Linked DNA regions of Homo sapiens. The protein of the gene in region 1 interacts with the protein of each later gene in a pairwise test. Each region holds a gene or a part of one and is shown in the gene's direction. Other genes may lie near its edges.

Region 1 (7,026 bases):
TAGGATAGGATACTTATATTATTTCTGTTTGATATGTAGGTTTTTCTAATAGACTTCTGCAAAGTGTCACTTATTTTTCATTTGAATTCCATGTGGGTCCGTTCAATCTTTTTTAAAAATGGAATTACATTTCAATTTTTTTTTTTTTTGGAGACGGAGTCTTGCTCTGTCACCAGGCCGGAGTGCAGTGGCACGATCTTGGCTCACTGCAACCTCCGGCTCCCAGGTTCAAGAGATTCTCCTGCCTCAGCCTCCCGAGTAGCTGGGACTCTTATTTTTAAAATTACAGAAGTAAATTGATGCTCATAAAAAGTTAATACAGTGTATATATAATAAGTGACAACCCCTTTACATCCACTTCTAGCTCACATTCCTCCCCAGAGGAATCTAGGGAGCACAGCTACTCGTATACCCTTGACTGAAGGGTAACACTGTTAACACCACTGTATGATCTTGTAGATCTTTTTCTGTGCATTTGCAAATATGTTCTTTTCAGCCTTGAAAACGGAATCATCTTGAATGATCATCTGCTTTGCCATTTTGCCTCCAGTATGGGCTCTGTTATTACCTACAGGACAGGGACATGACTTGGAGCCTGTCAGAAAGCTTAACATCTGATATAGACCATAGGTCATACTCATCTTTTCACTAGTGAGGGGCCAATTGTTATGGAGGCATTTGCAGAGTTTGAAGGGAGGTCATACTGATGTGAGTTTTATCTGGTATAGATTTAATTCACTGTAAACTTCGAGCGGCCGAGGTGGGAGAATGGCTTGAGCCCAGGATTTCAGGACCAGCCTGGGCAACATAGTGAGACCTCTTTGCTACAAAATTTTTTTAAAAAAAATTAGCCAGATGGGGTGGTGCACACCGTAGTTTCAGCTAATTGGGAGGCTGAGGTGGAGGGATCACTTGAACCCAGGAGTTCAGCCTTGGTGACAGAGTGACACCCTGTTTTAAACAAAACAAACCCAAAAGGTGCTTGGATTCCATGAATTTTATAGGACTCTTTAGAGTCCAAGTTTTAGGGTTTTCTTTGGCTTTTGACTTGATCGATAGTGTATGGGTTAAACTTTGATTTTTTTTCCTTCTGTACTTGCTTGCAGACTCCTACGAAAGCCTCGTAGATTACACCAGCCTCTTGAGCTCCTCTGAAGTGAACCTAAGCAGACTGTCCTTAACTAAGGGACACTGATACTGACTTGGATAAAATTTAGCTTTTGAAGGGAAAAGGAGAGAAGAGGCTCTTTGGTTTGGCTTTTGCTTAACTGACAACAAACAACTAATATGCACTACCCTCTCCTCCATCCATCCCTCTGGTTCTCTAATAGTTCCAGAGGGTTTGTTTTAAACCAGGTTACAAAGAATTACCAAACCTTAATTCTTTTTAGCTGATGGAGTTTGCAAAAAGTTCAGAGTATTGATCAAGACTATTTACTATGGGAGATACCTAGAAAGATGCAGTATAATTGACCCTGCCTTCAGTGGTTTTGAAATCTAGTATGGTTAAAACAGCATAGACATTAATAATAATAATAATAATAATATTATTATTATTATTATTATTATTATTATTATTATTTGAGACAGAGTCTCTCTCTGTCACCCGGGCTGGAGTGCAGTGGCGTGATCTCAGCTCACTGCAACCTCCGCCTCCTTGGTTCAAGCGATTCTCCTGCCTTAGCCCTCCAAGAGTAGCTGGGATTACAGGTATCTGCCACCACACCCGGCTAATTTTTGTATTTTTAGTAGACAACGGTGTTTCTCCATGTTGGCCGGGCTGGTCTCAAACTGCTGACCTCAGGTGATCCGCCCACCTCGGCCTCCCAAAGTGCTGGGATTACAGGCATGAGCCACCATGCCCAACTGAAAAGCATAGACATTATAACACAAGGTGGAAAATGATAGATTTTATAAGAAAATTACATACAACATTTGTAAGGATGAGCCTATTTCTGGCTGTTTTTTTTTTTTTTGGTGGGGGGAGAGGCATGGGATTTTGAGGGAGAATACGTATCTTAACCTTTTAATTAGTTAAGAAAGGAAACTTAGATCTTAGCTCTTGATAACGTAAGGAGTTGTTATGTTCTTTTAGCAGGCATCTGTGAGACTGATAGCTATTTCAGTAGTTTTTTTTAAGCTTTCCCGCTGGAAAGAACCATTTGATGTTTTATTTGATAATTATAATACAGCCTCTTTAATCATTTCAGGATTGCTAGAAAAATTAGGAAATTAAATCCTATCAGTTAACTGTTGTCTACCATCAAATATGTCAGCCAGTGTTAATATTAAAAGAAAATTGTTTCCTCTTATCTCAATCTTGAAGCATATATATTATGTCACCTCTTCCACACATTTTTACTTCTAGTGCTGTGTCAAATAAAGCATTTATTTACTGTGACTATTTTAATAAAACAATATTGTGGGGGAAAAGTCAAAGTTCTGCACTGTAGCTAAACCTTTTGATGTTTATCTGTTTCCTTATAGTTTTTTACAGATGCATAAAGTAAAATATTTTTTAAGTTCCTTGTAGGCATTACACCAATGGCTGTTGCATTTTCTCCTTTTCTGGATCAAAAATTCTAGATGGAGTTGTATGAATTATTTATAGAACACTCAAGTGTCAGAGCAATATAATTGTTACTAATTGACTATAATTACATAATGGCATTTATATTTACAGGTTGCTTTACAACCATTTATTAAAAGCCCTATTAGGTGTAACTTCTGTGAAACAGGTGGATACCGAGATTCCTGTTTTTTTCCATTTTTTTGATTATGCAAATGTTGAATTATTTAAACTTACTCTTATAGCCTCAACTCTGAGTTATTACTTTAGTTGGATATTTCACAGAGATGTAATTCTGTTAATTTTAAGTCTTAGAAGTCTACAGAAATCACTTGTGAAAAATGAAATTTTATGAATTACTTTGTCTTTTAAAGTATGCTGTTTCGGATATAATTTGCTTTTCATTTTTCAGAAACATTTTCATTTTTTACATTAATAATGACGACGATTAAGTTTCTTTTTCAAAGAGGTCACATTCAGGTACTTAACATTTTTAATTCTCATCCCAAATAGTGGAAAATTGAATGTGAGGGCTATCTGGCTGTGACATGTTACCCCATTGATCCCCAGGGTTGATTCAGCTCATCTGGCTGGCTCGGCAGGTGTCCCCTTCCTCCCTCTCCACTCCACGTGCGTCCCTCCTGAAGCTGAAGCTGCGTGCTTGGTTGAAGAGGACAACCATCCCAAATAGAGGAGGACTGGTCTTGGGTCAAGGGTATACGAGCAGCTGCGCTCCCCTGCTAGAACCTTCGAGCAAGCTCTCAAGGTCCAAATAGTGGAAAATGAAAGTACAGGTTGATTCATGTTGGCAGGTTTTGGTATCAAAAAAAAATTAAAAAGCACACATGGGGGATATACCAATAAAGGTTAGACCATATGCCTAGCTAAGAACTTATCATTTGTATTAAAATATGGTTTAATGTAAAGAGTTGCCTTTCTCCATTCCCCCCTCCCCTCCCCTCCCCTCCTCTCCCCTCCTCTCTTGCCCCCAATTAAAAAATAGCACATCCCTAATGTGGGAAACAGTAAGAAAGCATAGATTACATTTTAGGCAGGGCACAGTGGCTCACACCTGTAATCCCAGCACTTTCGGAGGCTGAGGTGGGTGGATCACTTGAGGTCAGGAGTTTGAGACCAGCCTGGCCAACATGGTGAAACCCTGTCTCTACTAAAAGTACAAAAATTAGCCGGGCATGGTGGCGGGTGCCTGTAATCCCAGCTACTTGGGAGGCTAAGGCAGGAGAATTGCTTGAACCCAGGAGGCAGAGGTTGCAGTGAGCAGAGATCACGCCATTGCACTCCAGCCTGTGCGACAGATCAAGACTCAGTCTCAAAAAAAAAAAAAAAAAATTAATATCATTGGAGATCATACCACCGAAAGTGCTGTTGTTAATCTTCTTGATTATCTATCTGCTTCCTGCATTTTGTTGAGCCATTACATAAGTATATGTATACTTATATGATGTTATGGGCTCCTAATGTAGTCCACTGCAGTGCAAGCTGTTCAGTTAACAGTGAATCATCAACATATTTTCATGTCAGTATTTTTCTGCTATGTGATTATTTTTAGTAGGTATGTAACATTCTCATCTCTGTGTAATAATTTACTTATCAATCTTCTGTTGGACATTGAAGTTGTTTTCAATTTTTAGGATAATAATACTGTCACTTCCCTATATCATGCATTTTGATACTGGCCTACCTAGTATCAGTGATTTTTTCTATTTTTGTTTCTCTGAAAATATCTCAATTTCACCTTTTTTTTTTTTTTTTTTTTTTTTTTTTGAGACAAGGTCTCACTCTGGCACCCAGGCTGGAGTGTAGTGGTGTGAACATGGCTCACTGTAGCCTCAACCTTTTGGGCTCAGGCAATCCTTCACCTCAGCCTCCTCAGTAGCTGGAACCACAGGCACATGCCACCATGCCCAGCTAATTTTTAAATTTTTTGTATAGGCGGGGTCTTGTCATGTTGCCCCGGCTGTTCTTGAACTCCTGGGCTTAAGAGATCCCCCCACCTTGGCCTCCCAAAGTGCTGGGTATAGGTGTGAGCCACCATGCACGGCAGTTTCACCTTTTTTGAAGTGGTTTTTGGTGTTTTTTTTGTTGTTGTTGTTGTTGTTTTTTTGAGACAGTCTCGTTCTGTTGCTTAGGCTGGAGTGCAGTGGCGTGATCTGAGCTCACTGCAGCTTCTGCCTCCTGGGTTCAAATGATTCTCATGCCACAGCCTCCTGAGTAGCTGGGATTACAGGCATGTGCTACCATACCCAGCTAAATTTTTTGTATTTTTAGTAGAGATAGGATTTTGCCATGTTGGCCACGCAGGTCTCCAAACTCATGGCCTCAAGTGATCTGCCCACCTTGGCCTCCCAAAGTGCTAGGATTACAGGCATGAGCCACTGTGGCTGGCCTGAAGTGTGTTTTCACTGGCTATTAAGTTCTAAGTTGGTAGTTATTTTCTTTCAACACATTAAGAATGTTTGGTTGCTTTCTGTCTTCCTTTCTTTTTGTTGAAGTCAGCTACCAGTCTTATTGAAGGCAATGTATTAGCTATATTCTTGCTGAGGATAATGTGTCTTTTATTTTTCCTTGGCTAATTTTAAGACTCTCTGTGTTACTTTTAAAGCACTTTGATGTGTTCAGATGTGGTTTTCTTTGTTGCTTTATGTTTATAGAGTTTTTTGAATCTAGCTGGATGCCTTTTAGTTTTGGAAAGTTCTGTTACCACCTTTTCATATATTCTGCCCCTTTTTTCTTTTTGGATCCTAATTACACATATATTAAACTTAATTATCATGTTCCACATGTTGAAAAAAATTTTTTTCTCTGTTTGGATATTTTCTATCGACCTGCCTTCCAGTATGCCAAAACTATCTTCTCTTTTTGTCAAAATAATCTTTTGTGTTCTTAATTTTACATTGTGGTTTTGAGTTCTAGAGTATTCCTTTGATGTTGTTTTATAGACTTGTAATAGACTCCAGTTCTCTTGAACATACTAATTATAGTTATTTAAATGCTTGTCTTTTCCAATATCGGCATCATCTATTGGTCTGTTTATCTTGTTTGTTTTTCTGTTGGTTATTGGTCATATGGTTGTATTGTTCCGTCTCTTCACATGCCTGATAAGTTTTCGAAGGAACTTACCCATTTCATTTAACTTGTTGCATTTATTGCAAAAAGTTGCTTATAATACTCTATTATTGTTCTTTTAATATCTGTAGAAAGTGTAATGAGTCTAATATCTGTATAACCTGTAGAGATTTAGTATCATTCCGAATACTAGTAATTTGTCTCTGCTCCCCTTTTCCCTGATTAGTCTGGCTAGAAGTTTATTAATTTTATTGAGGTTCTTAAAAAGTTAACTTTTAGTTTAATTGACTGCCTGTGGTTTTCTTATTTCCGCCCTGGTCTTTATTTCCTTTCCTCAGCTTACTTTTGGGTTTAATTTGTTTTCTTTTTCTGGTTTCTTAAGATAGAAGCTGAGGTCATTGATTTGTGACCTTTTTTCTTTTCTAATGTAAGCATGCTATAAACTTCCCTTTAATTGTTTATAATTTATTTATTTGTTTTTTGAGACAAGGTCTCACTACTGCTCAGGCAGTACAGTATCGTGATCATGGCCCATTGCAGCCTTGACCTCTCAGGCTCAAGTGATCCTCCCACCTCAGCCTCCTGAGTAGCTGGGACTGCAGGCATGTGCCACCATGCCTGGCTAATTTTTTATTTTTATTTTTATTTTTTTGAGACTGGGTCTCACTCCGTTGCCTAGGCTTTAGTGCAGTGGCCCAATCACGGGGTCACCACAGTGTCGACGTCTCAGGCTCAAGAGATCCTCGCACCAGAGTCTATTAAGTGCTGGGATTACAGGCGCGTGCCATCATGCCTGGCTAATTTTTGTATTTTTTGTAGAGATAGGGTTTCACTATGTTGCCCAGGCTGGTCGTCAACTCCTGAGCTCAGGCAATCCACTTGCCTCAGCCTCCCAAAGTGCTAGGATTACAGGTGTAAGCCACCACACCTGGCCAGAGTTTATTACAATTTTTTCTGAAGACAAGGATGTCACTGTGTTGCCCATGTTGGTCTTGAACTCAGTTCAAGCAATCCTCTTTCCTTGGCCTCCTGGAGTGCTGGGATACAGATGTGAGCCTCCACTCCTGGCCGTTTCCAGTTTTTGATATGTTTCCATTTTCATTCCATTCAGAGTACTTTATAATTTCTTTCCTGATGTCTTACTGGGTCTATAGTTTATTTATAAGTGTGTTATATAGTTTTCAAATATTTGAGGATTTTCCAGAGATCATTGTTATTTTTAATTTAATTCCATTGTAATGAGATAATTTTAAATTTATTCGGATTTATTTTATGGCCTAGAATATATTCTATCATTGTAAGTGTTCTTCATGTGCAGTTGAAAAGAATGTGTGTTTTGTTGTTAGGTGGAGTGTTTTACAAATGTCAGT
Region 2 (7,026 bases), on another chromosome or scaffold:
AGCCTGGATGTCTCTTCCTTTAGAAGCCTTTGCTGATCACTCCACTTCTTCCAAATACAGTAGATGTGTCTGCTGTGTATTTATACAACATCCTGAACTACTTAACATGCTGTTTATTTACTTGTTTGTATTCCCCATTAGAATAGGCTCTGAGAAAGCAAAGACTGTATCTGTCTTGCTTATCATTGTATCCCTGACAGCTCGCCCACTGGCTGGCTTTTAATAAGCACACCATAAATATTTACTTGAAATACTCATTTTTAAAATGAACAGATGAATGAATGATAGATGGATGGTGGATGGCATTATGTAGCTAAAAATTGTGTCCTGTCTCTACCTATTTTTGAAGACCATCCTTTAGTTTGCGTTTCCTGCCATGTTTGAGGGGCCTTTTTTTGGTCCATAACTCTTGTCTTTTATTCAAATTAAAACACCGAACAAAAGCACATTCGATTATTGACCATGAGGTTTTTATTCTGCTGTCAGTGTCAACCTCATGTCTAAATCACCTGAGGTCAAACTTACATATATCTGGATAGCCTTTTTGATGACGATGGTAGTCTAATTTGTGTGTTATGTGCTCTTGAAATGTTTTGCTGTAAAGACACTAGAACTGAATTTTGCTTTATTGCAATGATGATGAATGTTAAAAAAAACAACTCAGTAACATTCAAACCAATTTCCAAGTTTGTTCTTCAGCCAGAGGAACTTGCACACTGACTTTTTGTAAAGGTAGCAGATTTATTGTGTTGTAATTCATACACCATAAAATTCACCATTTTAAAGTTTCCAATTTAGTGGTTTTTAGTATGTTTACAGAGTCATGCAACCATCACCACAGTATCATTGCAGGATGTTTTTATCATCCCTCAAAGAAATCCAGACCCACAGGAGGCTGAAGCAGGAGAATCGCTTGAACCCGGAAGGCGGAGGTTTCAGTAAGCCGAGATAGCGCCACTGCACTCCAGCCTAGTGACAGAGCAAGACTCTGTCTCAAAAAAAAAAAAAAAAAAAAAAAAAAAAAAAAGAAAGAAATCCAGACCTATTAGTAGCCACTCCCCATTCTACTTTCTGTCACTATGGATTTGCCTATTCTGCTTATTTCACATAAATGGAGTCATACATTGTATGGCCTTCTGTGTCTGGTTTCTTTTACTTACTTAGCATGATGTTTGAAAGATTCATTGATGTTGTAACATGTATCAGTTACTTTGTTCCTTTTTATGGCTGAATAATATTCCATGGCATCCCATTTTGTTTATCAGTTGACGGATATTTGGGTTGTTTCAGTTTTTAGCTATTATGAATATTGCTCCCATGAACATCTGTGTACAAGTTTTTGTGTGGACATGTGTTTTCGGTTCTGCTGGATATATACATGAAAGTGGAATCGCTTAGTCATATAGTAACTCTGTGGGAGATTTAAGGAACTGCCAAACTGTTTTCTGAAATAGCTGCACCATTTTACATTCTTACCAACAATGTATGAGGGTTCCAGTTTCTCCATATCCTCGCCAACACTTTTTATTATCCCTCTTTTTCATTATAGCCATCCAATGAGTATCTCTTTGTTGGTTGGGTTTTCTTTTCTTTTCTTTTTTTCTGAGATGGAGTCTTCCTCTGTTGCCTAGGCTGTAGTGCAGCAGCGCGATCTCGGCTCACTGCAAACTCCACCTCCCAGGTTCAAGCAATTCTTCTGCCTCAGCCTCCCGAATACCTGGGATTACAGGCATGTGCCAGCACGCCTGGCTAATTTTTGTATTTTTAGTGGAGACAGGATTTCACCATGTTGGCCAGGCTGATCTCAAACCCCTGACCTCGTGATCTACCCCCTCGGCCTCCAAAAGTGCTAGGATTACAGGCGTGAGCCAGGGTTTGCTTTTCTGTAATGATCAATAAAATAGAGCACTTTTCATGGTTTATTGACCATTCTTGTTGAAAATCAGTTGACCATAAATGTGAGGGCTTACTTTTGGGCTCTTAATTCTATTCCATTAATCTGTATGTCTGTCTTTATGCCAGTACCACACTGTCTTGGTATTTTGGACTAAGTTTTGAAATAGAGAAGTGTGAATCTTTCAAGTTTTGTTTCCCTCAAGAGTATTTTGGCTCTTCTGGTTCTCTTGCATTTCCATATGAATTTTAGGATCAACTTGTCAATGATACAAAAACAAAGCAGCTAGAACTTTTGATAGAGATTGAGTTGAATCTGTTGTGCTCACTGGCATTTGGCTGAAACTTTAGCTTGTTACCTCTTTTGGACTAGTTGCGTGGACCTCATTTTGAGCATGTAGATGTGATGTTATCAGGATTTGGTTATTAACTTTAGATTACAAATGTTTGGGAACTTAAACATGTTATTCACAGCCAGGCATGGTGGCTCACACCTCTAATCCCAGCACTTTGGGAGGCTGAGGTGGGTGGATCACCTGAGTTCTGGAGTTTGAGACTAGCCTGACCAATATGGTGAAACCCTGTCTCTGCTAAAAATACAAAAAATTAGCTGGGCACGGTGGTAGGTGCCTTTAGTCCCAGCTACTCAGGAGGCTGAGACAGGAGAATTGCTTGCTTGAACACAGGAGGCGGAGGTTGCAGTGAGCTGAGATCGTGCCACTGCACTCCAGCCTGGGCAACAGAGCAATACTCCATCTCAAAAAAAAAAAAAAAAAGTTATTCACATATAACATACAACAGAAATAATCAATGTTCACTTCGTTGACTATTTACAGAGTGAGCACACCTACATAACAAGAGTCTGGATCTAAAAAGGACCATTGCCAGTATCATTGAGACATTTTGATGTTTGTTTTGATTCAGGTTTTTTCATTTTCCTAGATGTTCTAGTAGAGCTGAAGGCTTATCCTTTTTTTTTTTTTTTTTTTTTTTTTTTTAAAGACCGAATCTTGCTCTATGGCCCAGGCTGGAGTGCAATGGCGCGATCGCAGCTCACTGTAACCTCTGCCTCCTGGGTTCAGGTGATTCTCCTGCCTCAGCCTTCTGAGTAGCTGGGATTACAGGTGCCCGCCACCACACCTGGCTAATTTTTGTATTTTTACTAGAGACGGGGTTTCACCATGTTGGCCAGGCTGGTCTTAAACTCCTGACCTCAGGTGATGCGCCTGCCTTGGCCTCCCCAGGTGCTGGGATTACAGGCATGAGTCACCACAGGCAGTCAGCTTATTTTAACTGCATATTTGGAATATCAGTAGGTAGCATAGTGCAGTGGTTGAGCTACGGACTTTTGGCCTCAACTGCTGGGGTTCAAATTCTAGCTTTACCACCTATTAGCTGTGAGACCGTGGGCACGTTACTTAACCCTATGTGCCCCAGTTTCCTCTTCTGTAAAAGGGGGACAAAACTATCTCATTGGGAGGATTAATATGTAGATTGCTTGGAAAATTGCCTGATGATCACAGTAAGTGCCATATGTGTATTAGCTATTATTCATATTATTACTTTTATTGTTGTTATTTTGTATTTGTATTTCTTTAGTGGAATATAAGCTCCTTGTCTGACTTGTTTATCATGATATGCCCAAAGACTAGCACTGTGCTTGGCACATAATAGATATTCAACACATTTTTTGAGGAAGGAAGAAGGGGATTTTAAATAATAGAATTCCTAAATCCTTTTCTGAAACCGCCTTTGACAGCTATAATGTCTTTCATTTACAACAGCTTCTGGAGCTATTTGACAGCGAAGACCCTCGGGAACGGGACTACTTAAAAACAGTCTTACACAGAATTTATGGCAAGTTTCTTGGTCTTAGAGCATTTATCCGAAAACAGATTAACAATATTTTTCTAAGGTAAGTGGAGTGTGATGGGGGAAGAAGGAGAAGCAAAGTTGGTGTTTTTATGAGTATTAAGTAAATCTCAAATATCTGAAAACGGTGTACTGACTTCTCTTTCTCCCTTTCTGCCTGCCTTCCTTCATTCTACTGACTCTCCTGCCTCTTCCTCTACCCCCTCCCCCTCCTCTCCTCCCCCATCTTCTCCTCTCCTCCCCCATCTTCTCCTCTCCTCCCCCATCTTCTCCTCCCACCCTCCTCTTCCTCCTCTTTTCCTCTTCCTCTCCCTCCTCCCCCCACTGCTTCTTCTCTATCCCTCCTCTCCCCCTACTTTCCCCCTCCTCTTCCCTCTCCCCTGCTTTTCTCCTCCCCCTTCTCCTCCTCCCCCATCTCCTCCTCCTCTCCTCTTTTCCTCTCCTCTCTCCTCCTCCTCCTCTATCCCCTGTCCTCCTCCTTTCTCCCTCCCTCTCCTCCTCTCCTCCCCGCTCTCCTCCTCTCCTGCCCCCTCCCCCTTCTCCTCTTTTCCTCCCTCTCCTCCTCTCTTCCCCCACCTCTCCCTCCCCCATCTTCCCCCTCCCCTCTCTTCCCCCCTTCTCCTCTCCTCCCCCGTCTCTTCCCTCCTTTTCTCCCCCTCCCCCTTCTCCTCCTCTTCTCCTCCCTGTCCTCCTCTCTTCCCCCACCTCTCCCTCCCCCATCTTCCCGCTCCCCTCCTCTCTTCCCCCCTTCTCCTCTCCTCCCCGACTCCTCTCTTCCCTCCTTTTCTCCCCCTCCCCCTCCTCCTCCTCTCCTCCTCCCTCTCCTCCTCTCTTCCCCCCATCTCTCCCCCGTCTCCTCCTCTCTTCCCCCCTCCTCCTCCCTTTTCCCTCTGCTCCTCCTCCCTTCCACCCTCTCCTCCCCCCTCTTCTCCCCTCTCTCCTCCGCTCTTCCCTCCTCTCCTCCCCCTCTCTCCCCATCTTCTCCTCCCTCTCCTCTCTTCCCCCATCTCTCCCCCATCTCCTCTCTTCCCCTCTCTCCTCCTCTCTTCCCTCCTCTCCTCCTCTCTTCCCTCCTCTCCTCCTCTCTTCCCTCCTCTCCTCCTCCTCTCTTCCCTCCTCTCCTCCTCCTCTCTTCCCCCCTCCTCTCCTCCTCCTCTCTTCCCCCCTCCTCCTCCTCCTTCTCTCTTCCCCCTTGTCCTCCCTCTCCTCCTCTCTTCCCCGCTCTCCTCCTCCTCCTCCTCTTCTCCTCCTCCTCCCCCTTCTCCTCCTCCTCCTCCTCTTTTTATCCCTTCCTTCTCCTCCTCCTCTCCTCCTTTCTCCTCCCTTTTCTCCTCTTCTCTCAGGTTTGTTTATGAAACAGAACACTTCAATGGTGTAGCTGAACTGCTGGAAATATTAGGAAGGTGAGCACGGTTTTTCTAATTGCTAATCTCAGATGAATATTATTTTAAAAATTAGGTTCAGGTGGCACCAAGAGATGCTCACCTAGTTCTCTTGCTGTATGTACATTGGGTCTCTCTCATTTGTGCCTATTAGCATATTTTCCAGCTGACTCTACAAGACACAATTTCCTGTTCCCCTTGTTCCACAAGTATGCATTGCCATTTCCACTGGAATGACTGAAAGAGCTGACAGTTCATTCATTACTAGAAAGATGGTACATCTAATTGTGGTCAGGCTAGTTACTCCAAAACATCTTATTCTCATTAGTTTTTAGGCTATCTGGTCCTTTGCCTTATCTGTTGAAAGCAAGTTTATAATAAATTGGAAAGATTGCCATTTTCAAAGGAGTTGTGTATCCAGGTATAGTCCTTGAACAGCTGCAGCCTGGAGTAGTGGAATGAATTGGAAAGAGCTGTGGTGTAAGTTTCTACACACAAGGGAGGATAATGTAGCTGGACAATATGATTACTTAATCTTTTCTCCTAATATGAAGAGAAAAAGAAGGTGGAGTCACATGGCTTTCTCTCAGTGATTTCCCTAGGCTGGGCAGAGGTTTCAGGAATGAGAAGGAATGATGTCTGGAAATGGAAAAGGTCATATTTAAGGCGGAAGCAAGCAAGGCGGGCCATTATTTGGAGAAGGAAAAGGGAGGGAAAATAAAGGGTTTTGATAAAGAGCTTTTGGAAACCATCTGACTAATTTTAGGAGCACAGGAGCCTTTGTTGGGTGACCAGAAGCAAATTTTCTTCTCTTAAATTTCCTTCCAACTTTTTGTATTCCTTGAAGTCATTAAGAAATCCTGGCTGGGTGTGGTGGCTCACGCCTATTATCCCAGCACTTTGGGAGGCCAAGGTGGGCAGATCATTTGCAGTTAAGAGTTCTAGACCAGTCTGGACAATATGGTGAAACTCCTTCTCTACTAAAAATACAAAAAAATTAGCCAGGCATGGTGGTGGGTGCCTGTAATCCCAGCTACTTGGGAGGCCTGAGGCATAGGAATAGCTTGAATCCCGGAGGCGAAGGTTGCAGTGAGCTGAGATTGGGCCACTGCACTCCAGCCTGGGCAATAGAGCAAGATGACTCTGTCTCAAAAAAAAAAAAAAAAAAAAAAAAAAGGAAATTCTGAATGCCACTGGGGTGGGTATTATGTTGTTTTGTACAAACAAACTGATTAAGTTTAATTAATATCACAAGAACAGTTTGTCTCAGTTCAACTTGTGGTAACATTGCTAATTTGTGTCTCTTTTTTCTCCCTAGTATTATCAATGGCTTTGCTTTACCTCTTAAGGCAGAACACAAACAGTTTCTGGTGAAAGTATTGATCCCTTTACACACTGTCAGGAGCTTATCACTCTTCCATGCACAGGTAGGAGGATTTTGTACAACTACTTTTAGAAGCAAAATAAAAAGTTTGCAAACTCGTTTTTTTGATATTGATATAACCTTCATTTTGTTTTTTTGGTTTTTGTTTTTTGAGACGGAGTCTTGCTCTGCCGCCCAGGCTGGAGTGCAGTGGGACAGTCTTGGCTCACTGCAGCCTCCACCTCCCGGGTTCAAGCAATTCTTCTGCCTCAGCCTCCCGAGTAGCTGTGACTACAAGCGCACGCCACCATGCCCAGCTAATTTTTGTATTTTTAGTAGAGACGGGGTTTTACCATGTTGGCCAAGATGGTCTGGGTCTTCTGACCTCATGATCCGCCCACCTTGGCCTCCCAAAGTGCTGGGATTACAGAGGTGTGAGCCACGGCGCCGGGCCTATCGCCTTCATTCCCAAAGGAAAGAGACTTACTTAAGTTTAAAATACTCCCCGAGGGAAAT
Region 3 (7,026 bases), on another chromosome or scaffold:
GCGGAGGGAGGAGGCGGAGCAGGATAGGCCAGGCTGAGAAGTGCCCTTGCATGGGTAGGCGTAGGAGCTGGCTGAGATCAAGCCATGCCTTCCTTCTCCGGCCCCAGAGCACCTGGTGCAGAGCGTCTGCAAGTCCTACAGGGAGACATGCCAGCTGCGGCTGGAGGACCTGCTGCGGCAGCGCTCCAACATCTTCTCCCGGGAGGAAGTGACTGGCTACCAGAGGAAGGTGAGGCCAGGAGACCTGCAGGAAGGGAACGTATCCCACCCCCACCGGGAGAGTTCAGAGATGGCTACCTGCGCACGACTGGGTCCTGGGGCAGGGCGGGACATCACAGACACAGGCTGGCCAACAAGCATGTGCACACCTTTTATGTACAGTTGCGAATGTGTGTATCTGTCTACACCCCAGCAGATGGATGAGCGCTTTTCCTTAGTTCTTGCCTATTAAAATTGTACCTGGCCTTCATCCTACCTCCTCTACCATGCAGACCTTGGTGCACCCTCCTTCCTCCTCTTCCATCAACAATAACAATAATCAGAACCCTGATTACCATTTGTTAAACACCCCTTCTCTGCCAGGCATTGTGCTAAACGCTTTATGTAAATTATCCTCAGCCCCTACCACAACCAACCTATGAGGGTGGCATTTATTCCTACTTTTAACAGACAGAAACTGAGCCTAGAGGGGTTAATAGGTTTCCTCAAAGTCACAAAGTGGTGGAACCAAAGTCAAATTCAGATTCATCAGGCTCCAAAGTTTATGCTGCCTTTTCGATCACACTCTCATACCACCTGCTCTAAACACACTCGTTTGGCACTTCACATTTGCTTCTCCAGGTTATTGAGACCTTGGGCATAACCTTTGTGGGGGAAGGGGCAGCTGTATGTCCTGTTCACCTCAACGAGATATACCTTGTTGGAGGGCAAAGCTGTATCTCATACTTTTTGGATTCCCTCACAACAGCTAACTCGGTGTCAGCAGCCGGTAGGTGCTCAGTGTGTGGGACTCACTGGCAGGAATCTGTGCATTTGTGCTAAGACCAGGCTTTTGAAAATGCTAGTTGAGAACATAGGAGTTCAGAGCCTACCCCTTGCAGTTTATTAGGTGGGGCTCCAGGGCTCAGGAGGATCACAGGGCCACACAGAGCGCTACAGCGGGACCCTCCTCCCTCCCTGCAGTCCATGTGGGAGATGTGGGAACGGTGTGCCCACCACCTCACCGAGGCCATTCAGTACGTGGTGGAGTTCGCCAAGAGGCTCTCAGGCTTTATGGAGCTCTGCCAGAATGACCAGATTGTGCTTCTCAAAGCAGGTGCCCAGGGATGGGTGGGCAGGCCTGGGGACAAGGGGACAGAGCCAAGTGGAGGGAGGTGGCTTAAGGAAATCAGGGGGACAGAGTCAGATCCTGGCTTTGCTTGACACTGTCCCTGCATCTTCTCTCCCCACTGCCCAGGAGCAATGGAAGTGGTGCTGGTTAGGATGTGCCGGGCCTACAATGCTGACAACCGCACGGTCTTTTTTGAAGGCAAATACGGTGGCATGGAGCTGTTCCGAGCCTTGGGTGAGGGGCAGGGAGAAATGAGAGGGAAGATTCTGATGCCAACCCCAGGCAAAGCTTTGTGACCCAGGGCACCCTCTTTTCAGGGCGAATTGCCCCCTCTGCTCTAAACACAATAAGGGCGGTGTCCTCGGGCACCATCGCTCCAGCCACTCTCTCACTTTTCTCATTTCCACTCCATCAGGCTGCAGCGAGCTCATCAGCTCCATCTTTGACTTCTCCCACTCCCTAAGTGCCTTGCACTTTTCCGAGGATGAGATTGCCCTCTACACAGCCCTTGTTCTCATCAATGCCCGTGAGTGTTGCTGGGCTTGGGTGAAGGACATTCAGGTGGCAGGGGCATGGCAGATATTGAAGAAGAGTCTAGACCTTCAGATGTAGTTAAATCTGGGAAATTGCTTTAAATAGCAGAATGAGCCCTACTCAGTATTGCTATAAAATAAAATGAGTTAAAATAAAGATTCAGAGGACTCTCAGAGAGGGACAAGAGCAGCATAAGGTGGGGTTGTGGGAAGTGGGGAGAAATGAGGTTGAGAGGAAATGAGCCACTTTCCTGACAGAAATGTGTCTGATTGTTAGTCTATGGCAGTGATTTCATTGTAGCACACATCAGAATCACCTGGGGAGCTTTAAAAACTATTGCTGCCTGGGTCCCACTTCCAGAGATTCCAGTGTACATGTGCTCCATGACTTATGATGGGGTTATGTCCCAATAAACCTATCGTAAGTTGAAAATATGGTAAGTTGAAATTGCATTTAACACGCCTAACTTACTGAACACCATAGCTTAGCCTAGCCTACCTTAAATGTGCTCAGAATGCTTACATTAGCCTACAGTCTGGCAAAAGCATATAACACAAAGCCTATTTTATAATAAAGTGTTGAATAGCTCATGTAATTTATTGAATATGGTTCTAAAAGTGAACAGCAGGATGGTTGCATGGGTATTCAAAGTATGGTTTCTACTGAATGCAAGTGGCTTTCTCACCAACATAAAATCAAAAAATAGTAAGTCAACTCATCATAAGACTGGGACCATCTGTAATTGATAAGGGGTGCACTGAATTTTAACAGCCACCCCCAGGCCACCAAGATTAAGAATCACTGCTCTGTGTGAACTAATTTTAAGGCTGTATGCCTATAATAGGAAGACTCTGGATATCCTATCCACTCCCCTGGCATGGAGTAGCTGGGCTGAGCCAGATGAATACTAAATATTCAGAGAACCTAGGGAAGTGGGTCAAGCTGCTAACCTGAGTTTGCAGATCGAGACTATCAGTCTTCTGGCTCTGCCAGTGAGTGGACACCTAAATATGCCCTTCAAACTAGAAGATAAAAACTTTAAAGATGACTTCTGGATATTTTATAGAATCAGGGCAAAAGTTAGTCACAGATTGCTGCAAGCCCCCTGGTGCAGGCCTGGGCACCTTCAGGAAGGCCACCTCCTATCAGGAGCCCTTTTCGTACATGGGGGAGCTCTTTTCCAACTCTTGTTACCCCTATGACAGAATCCTAGTGCCTAGCATTGAATGAGCTATGTGGAATATCAGGTTACCAGGGAGAAGGTAGCTTGGAGTCAGGAGATCAGAAATTCTCATACCTTTCATCTCTTCCCAGTTTTCCTTGTAGACAGCTAGCCAAGCCCAACGTCCAGAGCTTACCATTATCAAACCAAGGCACACACATGCACGCGCTCAGCTTAGAAGACCTCTATCCAGCACAGATGTCCACAAAGATACACCCTTTTGTTGGGAGTTAATGTCCATGTTCTTTCTTGTTCTCATTACGGTCCCACCCCCTCCTCCAGATCGGCCAGGGCTCCAAGAGAAAAGGAAAGTAGAACAGCTGCAGTACAATCTGGAGCTGGCCTTTCATCATCATCTCTGCAAGACTCATCGCCAAAGCATCCTGGCAAAGGTAGGAGCAGTCCCTGGGGTAGAAGAGGCCAGGCCCATCGCTAGCTCTGTAACATCAGAGTTTGCGAGGGCCGGGGTCTGTGGGTACAGAGGAGGGAGTGCGGGAGTACCACTCTCTGTTAGAGAGCTTGCATCAGCAGTGGGAACTAAGGGAATGAACAGCTACTTCCACGTGCATAAAGACTGGAAAGTTAGAGGGCCTGGGATTGGGAGGGACCTCCAGGGAACAATTCAGTTTAATATAGCCAGCACTTACCCAGCACCTGCTTGTACAAGGCACTGTGGAAAGACACAGAGATTTGGTCGCTGCCCCCACCAAGAGATTTTAATCTGGTATGAAGAAGAGATCTGTGTATCACTAACTCTAACATAGAGTAGAATGTGGTATGTGATATAATAATAATGCAATTAACAGAGTGCTTTTGCTGACATGCTTTCTCATCCTCATGGCAACCCAGTCAATAGGACAGGTGTTCAAATCTCCCTGTGTAGCAGCCGGGCACAGTGGCTCACGCCTGTAATCCCAACACTTTGGGAGGCCAAGGCGGGTGGATCACCTGAGGTCAGGAGTTCGAGACCAGCCTGACTAACATGGTGAAACCCCATCTCTACTAAAAATAAAAAAAATTAGCCAGGCATGGTGGCAGGCGCCTGTAGACCCAGCTACTTGGGAGGCTGAGGCAGGATAATCGCTTGAAACCGGGAGGCAGATGTTGCAGTGAGCCAAGATTGTGCCATTGCACTCCAGCCTGGGCAACAAGAGCAAACTCTGTCTCAAAAAAAAAAAAAAAATCTCCTTGTAGCTATCAGGAGACTTCAGTGACTTAAATGCAAGATTGAATCCCAGTGCTCTTTGCGCTCTTTCTATCCCTGTGTCCCCTATGTATAACTATAATAAGTGACACCAGGAAAATGTTATGAGAGTATAAAACAGGGATTAAAAATAATTTGGGGGTAAAAGGAGTGGGTCATAAATACTTCCCAGGGAAGATGACATTTATACTAGGCCATGAATGATGTAAGATTTTAACAGGCATTCATGGGGGTGGGGCAGGCATTCCAGGCTTAGGGAACAATAGGAGCAAAACAAAAAAAATGAAAAAAAATCCTTTTCCTGAGGTTTAACCAAAAAAATGGATGAGATGAGTATGAGAGGCTGGGGATAATTGTTTTATGGGATTTGGGTGTGGGACTAGGGTACAATGAAGACCAAGAACAACAGGAGAAAAATAAGGAGGCAAAATAGTGTGTATGTGGAGAATCACTCATGGTACATCCTCACTAAAGTGTAAAATCAGGAGCTGGGATAGACTGGTGGGGCAGAAGAGCACCAGATGATCAGCCTGAAAATTAGGTCAGGGGCAAATCAGAGAGGACTTTCAATGCCATATAAGCGTTAAAGCTTTATTTCTAGGCCACAGGGAGCTCCAAAGGCTAGAAAAATGACACAATCAGAGCTGTCATTTAGGCAATTTACTTTGGAACCAGTATAAAGGAACCATTTATGTAATTATTCAAGCAGGCCTTTGCTATGTGCCAGGCACAGGGCTGGGTGTTAAGGATACAGCAATGACTTACACGGTCTGTGCTCTCAAGAACTTGAACTTTAATCTGCTACAGGATGGATTTGAAGGAGGAGAGACAGGAATCTGGGAGAGCAATTGGAAAGCACATCCGGTTGGATCTGCTTTCAAAATACATCACCTTCCCTACTATTACCACCACCCTGGCCCCTACCAGCTCTCAGCTTTCACTTGGACTTTAAGAGAGGCCTCCTAACTGAGCCCCTGTTCCACCCTCATCTGCCCTGTAGCAACCACACCTACTCCGCACCCACGGTAGCCCTTTTAAAAATGCAATCTCATCATGCCCTACTCCTGTGGTTTTTTTCTTGTTTTTGTTGTTGTTGTTTGTTTGTTCTGTTTGTTTGTTTTGAGGCAGACTTGCTCTGTCGCCCAGGCTGGAGTGCAGTGGTGTGATCTCGGCTCACTGCAACCTCCACCTCCCAGGTTCAAGCGATTGTCCTGCCTCAGCCTCCTGAGTAGCTTGGATTACAGGGATTACACGCCCGGCTAATTTTTGTATTTTTAGTAGAGACAGGGTTTCACCATGTTGGCCAGGCTGGTCTCGAACTCCTGACCTCAGGTGATCTGCCCACCTTGGCCTCCCAAAGTGTTGGGATTACAGGCGTGAACCACCACACCTGGCCTTGACTCCTGTTCTCAGCCCTCCTGTAGCTGCCTGTGATGCCGAGAATCAAATCTAGAGTCTGCGTCATGGTCAAGTGGCTCATAACATGATCCCTGCCTTCTTTTCTCACTTGATCTTCCACTGCCCCTTCAAACACCCATTGCAGCCACACTTGCTTCCTTGCTATTCCTCGAACACATCAAACCCAGTCGCAGGGCTTTTGTACCTGCTATTGTAGTCACCTGGAGGGTTCTTCCCCCAGTTTTCCAAATGGCTTACCCCATCTCTTCATTCGGGAGAGGTTTTTCCTGACCAGTAACCCCATACAAAAAGCTTTAGTTTTCTTTAAAGAACTTATTATCTGATACACTACATATTTATTTTCTGGGCCCCTCACCAGAATGTAAATTTAATCAAGGTACAGATTATACTTTATTGACTGATATATCTGATATATCACTAGAGGCCATCACAGTGCCTAGCTCAGATCCAGATGTGTTCTCAACAAATATTTGTTGAATGAATGAAGGAAGCTATTGCCATAGCCCAAAAAAGCTCAGAATAAAGCAGTGGTGAGGAAGAGAGAGAATCTAGGAGATATGAAGGGATCACACCCTGCTGCCTGCTTTTCTCTGACTGCCTCTTTCCAAGGAAACTAAGCTGGGGGAGGGAGGCAATGGCAGGCAAGAGACATTTTTAAGCCTCTTGGTTGTAGAGGAGACTGCAAGAGATAAATTGTTCTTTCAGCCTTGCTCCAGTGAGGTCTCCCTGCCTCCGTCTGCTCACTGGTTTCTGTGCCTTTTTCATCTCCCCTTTGGCTGAGTGCTGGCAGCATTGGTTTGCTACTTGCAGTGTTAGGTGCCTGCTTAGAAAGTCTGTTTAGTTCAAAGAGTTATTAAGCATGTGCCATGTGCTAAGCATTATGATAGGTACAGAGGAGACAGGGAAAGAGAGACCTCAGCCAAGGAGCTGAAATCTAGGGTGGGAAGGCAGACAAATTGGACCATTTTCCTGCAATGTAGTAAGTGCTACACAGAGGAAAGCCCAAAAGAAGGGCCCTTAATCCAGATGGGAGGCAGTTAGGGAAATAGTCTTAGGAGAGGTGACACTAGAGGGTAAGGATTAGTAATGGGAAGAGGGGAACAACATGCACAAAGGCAGAGGCATGTGACAGCATACAACAAGAGTCACAGACAATCACTCTTATAAAAGCAGGAAGTGCACATTAGAGTCTTTGACAAGGTTCATTCTAGAAGTATTGGGAACATAAATTGAGGGCTTCACCCAGAAAACATTCACCTGTGCCCCACCCACTCTCACTTCCCTCCAGTGTCCTGAACACACACGTACTTCTACCAG
Region 4 (7,026 bases), on another chromosome or scaffold:
CATGCCTGTAATCCCAGCTACTTGGGAGGCTGAGGCAGGAGAATGGCTTGTACCTGGCAGGCGGAGGTTGCAGTGAGCCAAGATTGCATCACTGCACTCCAGCCTGGGTGACAGAGCGAGACTCCATCTCAAAAAAGAAAAAAGAAAGAAACAGGGTATCCCGGATTATGGTTGGCTCCTGACTGTCGGAAAGCCCCTCCCCACAGGCCTGCAGAAGGGCTGCCTGGCTGCAGGCAAGAGCCCCTCACCAAGTGTGCCCTGCAGCTGCCAAGCTGCTGCGCCTCCCTGCAGAGGCCTCAGGATTTAAGTGTGTAACTGCTCCCATTTCAGAACTTTCTCTTTTCCACTATTCTTCTATGAATAAACATTGGGGACAAATCACCCCATGCCTGGGCCAGAGCATCTGTGGGATGGGATGGGATGGGTTGTGTGCACCCTGGTGTGGAAGCTGTATGGGCACTTGGGTGTCGGTTTCTCATCTGCACAGTGCATTGTAATGACACACTAATGTTTGTTCCCCCTTCCTCTCATGAAGAGGCAGAGCCGCCCTCCAGGGTGAACAGCCGCACGGGAGTAGGTACGCACCTGACCTCGCTGGCACTGCCGGGCAAGGCAGAGAGTGTGGCGTCGCTCACCAGCCAGTGCAGCTACAGCAGCACCATCGTCCATGTGGGAGACAAGAAGCCGCAGCCGGAGTTAGGTATGACTATGGGCTCTTGGATCAGAGAGCAGTTTGATTTTTAACCATGAAAACAAGAAGTTTGCCATCTTAAATTTTTCTAAGTGCAGAAGAACTCCACCATAGCCCGATAGGGGGCGTTTCAGGAAATCCAGTTACGTAAAATGCAGGGTGGAGTGCGGCCAGCCAGGGCCCAGGCAGCAACCTGTCCAGGTCTCTGCTGCCCTGTGGTGCCCTCCAGTGGCAGTTGTCTGTTCTGGCATCAACGCAGGAGGGTTGATTGTGGTGCAAGATCTTATCCCCTTTAATTGGTGCGGAGAGCACTGGGAGCGAGGCCCCACCTCCCTCTTCCCTGGGCAGGCCTGGGGTTCTTTCCTCTGCCCAGCAGAAGGTGCGACCGTTAGCTCTCCCTGTTTGTGGACAGGAGCCAGTACAGGTGGTAAACAGATTTACAATGAGCGCATTGGTGGCTGAGTGTTCTTGTTCTTTAGAATATTATGATTAAAATGAATCCTGAATTTGTTCTTTACTAAGAAGAGGGAAATGATAAGGAAAAAGTGTATGTCCAAGATCCAGTCCCCAAGCCCTCCCTTTCAGGATGGTCAGTGGCCCTGCCTGTCCCTTGTCCTGTCTGCCCCATGGGCCCATAGGGTCCCATCTATCACCATGCCTGGTCCCAAACCCGGAAAGACTCAGCACGTTGATCCAAGTTTCTGGTGTTCTGAAAGCTAAGGACAGCCGAGGGATATCTTCAGCAGCAGAGCTGAAGCCCAAGGTTCCCCACGTTTCCGTTTGTTCAGCCCCAGGTTCCTGAGCACCTGGCTGTCAGGGCTGTCCTGCTCTGCTTCTTGCCTTTTGCCATGAACTTTCTCAGAAAGCTAAATGAAAACGCTGTGAGTCTCATCCTCATGCCACAGGCATCATGAAATTACTTTATACGTGAATGATTTGTCTTGTTCGTGAATATAGTGTGGCCTTAAAATAATAAACAGGGCACGTGTGGACCAGAGCCCTGGGTTCTTGTGTTACAGAGATGGTGGAAGATGCTGCGAGTGGGCCAGAATCCCTGGACTGCCTGGCGGGCCCTGCCCTGGCCTGTGGTCTCAGCCAAGAGAAGGAGCCCTTCAAGAAGCTGGGCCTCACCAAGGAGGTACTCGCTGCACACACACAGAAGGAGGAGCAGAGCTTCCTGCAGAAGTTCAAAGAAATAAGAAAACTCAGCATTTTCCAGTCCCACTGCCATTACTACTTGCAAGAAAGATCCAAGGGGCAGCCAAGTGAACGAAGTAAGTGATACCCGAATTAAAAGTGCGTTTTAAAAAACTTTATTCCTGTTGGTACTGAGTCCAGTGCTGGTTTCAAAATGTGAAATGTGTCCAGTTTCAGAAGCATTAACATATAAGACAGCTGTTGGAACTTCCCTGGCAACGCCATCTGTTTCTGTAGAACTTCCCACCGGGGGGGTGCTCTCGGGATGTCAGCTTGCATTCCCTGGGGAATAGTCCCAGGCTAGTGCCCGAGGTGGGAAGAACCATGGCAGGGCAGTGCTGCCATGTCCACATTTCTTGCCTGAGTAACCATGTGGGCAGGGGCCCCACCTGGACGGGACCTCCAGAGAATCAGCGAATTCAACCTCAAGATAGTGGGCATGTAGTGCTGGGCACATGAGGAAGGAGGGATGTACCATTTCTGGTGCCCTTCTCCCCAGGAGATGCACCCTCCTGACTGGGCCAGCCTCAGGGCTGGGCTTTGGACTCCAGAGTCAGGCAGAGTCCATGGTCATGGTGTGGGAAGCTGCTGTGTAGGCCAGGTGCCACTTGGGGGGTTGAAGGTCAAGGGATGAAGTAAAATAGATGAGCTTCTTCACCCCTTTCCTGGCCCAGAAGTCTGGCTCCTGATCCCCCAGTTCCTTCCCATACCCCCAGACACTTGTTAGAGATGGGGCCTCTTCCCTTCCCCCTGGGACGCTGGCACAGGGATCAGAGCCAGTGAGCCCAGGAAGCCACTCACCACAAGGACCCAGCTCCCCCGGGTCTCTGGGCAGACGCACCAAGGGAAATTTGTAAGAAATTAAGCCCACAGCTTCCTTGAGGATTATGTCTTCTCCACTCTTTCCTTTCTCTCCTTCTTCCCCAGATTCAAGAGTTACTGCCAGCCCATAGAGAACCTCTGTAGAAATTAGAAAAAGGTGTACTCCATGGCCATGAGCAGACCCACCCCATGGGACCAGCCTAGTGCAGAGTTCCCGCTCTTGCTTGCCCCCTAGACAACTCTGTAGCCTTATGCAGTGCACAGACTACAGAGCTGCCTAGGGCAGCCCTGCCAGACCCAGACATGACATCCCAGGAGCCCAGTGCTTTAGCCACTGTTCCCACCAGGGGACAGATTTCTTGTGAGAAGAACACCAGATAGAGAGGCTGAATTGCAAAACCTCCATTTACATAGGAGTTTGCCTTGGACTAGCCCATTTCCCTTCAGCACATCCCAAAGGCATGGGACTGCCTTGGCACAGCTGACAGATGTCCCAGACACCTGCTGCAAGAGCCCCAAGTCACTCCGCGTGATGTGAGAGGAAAACCAAAGTTCCCTGGATCCCCCTCCCACTCCCCAGGGAGGCCATGGGGACATACCCAGAGTCCCTCCTTTACCAATTGAGTCCCTCCATCTTCCTGAAGAATGCCTTACTCAGCAGCACTCGTTATTGCAGAGGAAGAATTTGGTTGCAAGGCAATGCTCCCCTCTGATCTTGCTCAGGCTGTTTGACAGGTGAAAGAGGAAACATCCCTCTTTAAGGAACAGTAGTGACAGTGCTTATAAATTGAAAAATAGAGGAGGTCAGTGGCTCTCCCGTTCAGATTTCACTAACCAATTTTTCCCCCAAATACTGGGGAACAGCAGAGACATGACAGCTTTTTAGTGTATTTATTTAACAAATAGAACTTTGTATTACCACTTATCATATTAGCATTTCATAAAAGAAAGGACATTTAATACCAGAAGAAAATAAGGAATGTGTCCTGCAATTAAGAGCTTGTAATTTAAGTTGATTCAATTTAGTTTTATGGAAAAACCTGATGTTTTGCCCTGATTTTTCTCACTTCACTGAGGATCAGGGAAAACCGCTCGGTGGACCAGGCAGGCCCTGGGCCAGCATTTGGAAACCCAGGACTGTTGAACGAAGAGGTGTCTTCAAATTTGGAGTTAAAATTTTAACTCCGAGTATTTGTTTTTCTGCATTAGCTGCCCCTGGACTAAGAAATACTTCCGGAATAGATTCACCTTGGAAAAAAACAGGAAAGAACAGAAAATTGAAGTCCAAGCGGGTCAAACCTCGAGACTCATCTGAGAGCACCGGATCTGGGGGGCCCGTGTCCGCCCGGCCCCCGCTGGTGGGCTTGAACGCCACAGCCTGGTCACCCTCAGACACGTCCCAGTCCAGCTGCCCAGCCGTGCCCTTTCCCGCCCCAGTGCCAGCAGCTTATTCACTGCCCGTGTTTCCAGCGCCAGGGACTGTGGCAGCACCCCCGGCACCTCCCCACGCCAGCTTCACAGTGCCTGCTGTGCCCGTGGACCTCCAGCACCAGTTTGCAGTCCAGCCCCCACCTTTCCCTGCCCCTTTGGCGCCTGTCATGGCATTCATGCTACCCAGTTATTCCTTCCCCTCGGGGACCCCAAACCTGCCCCAGGCCTTCTTCCCCAGCCAGCCTCAGTTTCCGAGCCACCCCACACTCACATCCGAGATGGCCTCTGCCTCACAGCCTGAGTTCCCCAGCCGGACCTCGATCCCCAGACAGCCATGTGCTTGTCCAGCCACCCGGGCCACCCCACCATCGGCCATGGGTAGGGCCTCCCCACCGCTCTTTCAGTCCCGCAGCAGCTCGCCCCTGCAGCTCAACCTGCTGCAGCTGGAGGAAGCCCCTGAGGGTGGCACTGGAGCCATGGGGACCACAGGGGCCACAGAGACAGCAGCTGTAGGGGCGGACTGCAAACCTGGCACTTCTCGGGACCAGCAGCCGAAGGCGCCTCTGACCGTAAGGATTTTCTGATGCTCTTTCCCCAAAGCAGGCAGCAAACAGCACACCTGGCAGGCCGGCCGCACATCCTCAGTTCAGACATGGGGGTTACACGATTGAGGTTTCCACCAAACCCTGTAGGTTTTGCCATGAATGTGTGTGCCAGAAATTCATGCTTCCCACTTAATCCTATCAGAGTAGATTATTCGAAGCCTTTTATTGTCGTGGAATCTGAATGAAGGAGGAGAGATTGTGATACAGACTCCAGAAAGCAGCATGTGACTTGACAGTATTTGTGGGCTTCGACTTTTTAAATGACGCTTCAGAGATAAAGCACAGTCAGGTTAAATACCAGAGCTAGGGCTCCTCAGGGTGTGGCGCCGGAGCCTGGCTCAGGTGGCCCCGGTGAAGGCGGAGAAGGAGGGGGACACAGCCCTAAAACCAGCGTGACCTCAGTTTCCATCCTCCGCAGGCGTAGGGACACTGTGTGAGATTCTTAACCAGTTAATGAAACGGTAGTTGTATTTGCAGTTAAACGCTTGTGTTTCTGAACGAGCTCAAGTGTGTGGGAACGCCAGCAGCAGTGCAGTCCGTAGGCCTCAGGCGATTCCCTGCCTTGGCCAGAGGACCTAGGGCTCCCGGGTGAGGAAGTGCAAGCATGTAGATCTGTGGAGCTTCTCCCAGTCCTCCTGCCACCTCCGGGCTCCTGCTTCTGGAGTCCTGGGCCTGCAGTCTGGGTTTCCAAGGAGAGGAGGGTCAGGGATGCTCCCCAGGCCAGGCCCCGCCCTCAATCCCAAGGCAGCCCCCACACCGGGTGCTGTGAGAGGCGTTTTCCCCATCCATGTCTGCTGCATGTGAGGAGGGGGCTGTGGCCAAGGAGCAGCCTGAGGCTTTCCCCCCTGGAGCCCAGGTATTGCCGTCTTCCATGTGACTCTCCGAAAATTAAATGTAACTAGACGGCATCCATAGAGCATCAGTGGAATTTGCACCGTAGGCCTGGTGGTGATGCGTGGTCTGCTCGTTAGGCCGTCCCTGGCCGTGAACCTTGCAGCCGCTCCACAGCACCCCTCCACCCTCACCCCACTCATGCCCCCCACCCCCACCCCGCTGCATATGCTGTGTCCTGACTGAGCCCCTGAACAGCAGTATCTGCTTCCTGTCCCTAAAGCGTGATGAACCCTCAGACACACAGAACAGTGACGCCCTTTCCACGTCAAGCGGCCTCCTAAACCTCCTGCTGAATGAGGACCTCTGCTCAGCCTCGGGCTCTGCTGCTTCGGAGTCTCTGGGCTCCGGCTCACTGGGCTGCGACGCCTCCCCGAGTGGGGCAGGTATGTTGGCCCTGGCGGGGTGTTAGGCACTTGGGAGGTTCCTGCAGGATGCACTGCTCCAGAGTCACAGGCCGGCCTCTGTGCTCAGAACAGGGATCACCGGCACTCCCCAAGCAGCTGTCAGAGCCCATGCAGACACCCACACAGACACACTCTCCCTGTTCAGCATGGCTGGCCCTAGCTAGTCAGAATTCCACATCCTCCCTGTTTGCTTCTGATTTCAGTGCCTACAGGCCTCACACCCTGGCTCCTTGTGGGACCAGCCCTCTGACTCCCCAGATAGTGGTTTGCCTTCCTGCTTTAGTTCCACTTGTGTGAACTGAGGGTATGGAGCACCTGCAAGCCTCTACCCGCTGGGATCTTTCACATGTGATCTGGAATCTCAGGCACCAGAAATGTACACACTCTCCACAAAATTGAAGCTCCCCTACTTCTCTGGAGTGAGCTTTCACCTCGCCTCCCTTCGCAGGCGTGCTGCACAGGTGAGGCTGGCTAGGGAGCGCTCCAGGCCAGCTGCCTCCCCTTGTGGGAAACTGCAGTGCCCTGTGGTCCACATGAGTGGAGATGGTGAGAGCTTGGGAGAGAAGGTCAAGGCTTCTAACACGCAGCTCCACCTGAGCTGCTCAGGGCTTCACAGGAAAGAATCGCCTGCATGGCACTAGCAGAGATCCTGTTTCCTAATTACCCAGAGCATTCAAGAAGTGGGAGAGAAGGGGAACATGCACCGGCATAGATACCCAATACCTAAGAAGGCACTGGGCTCTCTCAAATCATTCTGACTTTGAGGAAGCACATTATGCAAGGTTTAATTTCATATGTCAATGTTTTGACGCACCACGTTTTTTGTTTTTAAAGGCAGTAGTGACACAAGTCATACCAGCAAATATTTTGGAAGCATTGACTCCTCAGAGAATAATCACAAAGCAAAAATGAACACTGGTATGGAAGAAAGTGAGCATTTCATTAAGTGCGTCCTGCAGGATCCCATCTGGCTGCTGATGGC

Evidence for each region.
Region 2: the proteins of CLOCK (region 1) and PPP2R5E interact in a two-hybrid assay, tested with the Homo sapiens proteins (one study listed by BioGRID).
Region 3: the proteins of CLOCK (region 1) and RORC interact in a two-hybrid assay, tested with the Homo sapiens proteins (one study listed by BioGRID).
Region 4: the proteins of CLOCK (region 1) and PER2 interact in a two-hybrid assay, tested with the Homo sapiens proteins (one study listed by BioGRID).

Annotation. Positions count from the first base shown.
Region 1 is NC_000004.12:55,536,901-55,543,926, reverse strand, and holds part of CLOCK (circadian locomoter output cycles protein kaput), read left to right. Parts: intron 1-7,026. UniProt on the Homo sapiens protein: Transcriptional activator which forms a core component of the circadian clock.
Region 2 is NC_000014.9:63,393,368-63,400,393, reverse strand, and holds part of PPP2R5E (serine/threonine-protein phosphatase 2A 56 kDa regulatory subunit epsilon isoform), read left to right. Parts: intron 1-3,677; coding exon 3,678-3,808; intron 3,809-5,108; coding exon 5,109-5,168; intron 5,169-6,465; coding exon 6,466-6,574; intron 6,575-7,026. UniProt on the Homo sapiens protein: The B regulatory subunit might modulate substrate selectivity and catalytic activity, and might also direct the localization of the catalytic enzyme to a particular subcellular compartment.
Region 3 is NC_000001.11:151,807,777-151,814,802, reverse strand, and holds part of RORC (nuclear receptor ROR-gamma), read left to right. Parts: intron 1-107; coding exon 108-229; intron 230-1,100; coding exon of another isoform or gene 1,101-1,182; coding exon 1,183-1,315; intron 1,316-1,456; coding exon 1,457-1,564; intron 1,565-1,745; coding exon 1,746-1,856; intron 1,857-3,368; coding exon 3,369-3,478; intron 3,479-7,026. UniProt on the Homo sapiens protein: Nuclear receptor that binds DNA as a monomer to ROR response elements (RORE) containing a single core motif half-site 5'-AGGTCA-3' preceded by a short A-T-rich sequence.
Region 4 is NC_000002.12:238,250,596-238,257,621, reverse strand, and holds part of PER2 (period circadian protein homolog 2), read left to right. Parts: intron 1-535; coding exon 536-700; intron 701-1,710; coding exon 1,711-1,965; intron 1,966-3,919; coding exon 3,920-4,710; intron 4,711-5,860; coding exon 5,861-6,023; intron 6,024-6,878; coding exon 6,879-7,026. UniProt on the Homo sapiens protein: Transcriptional repressor which forms a core component of the circadian clock.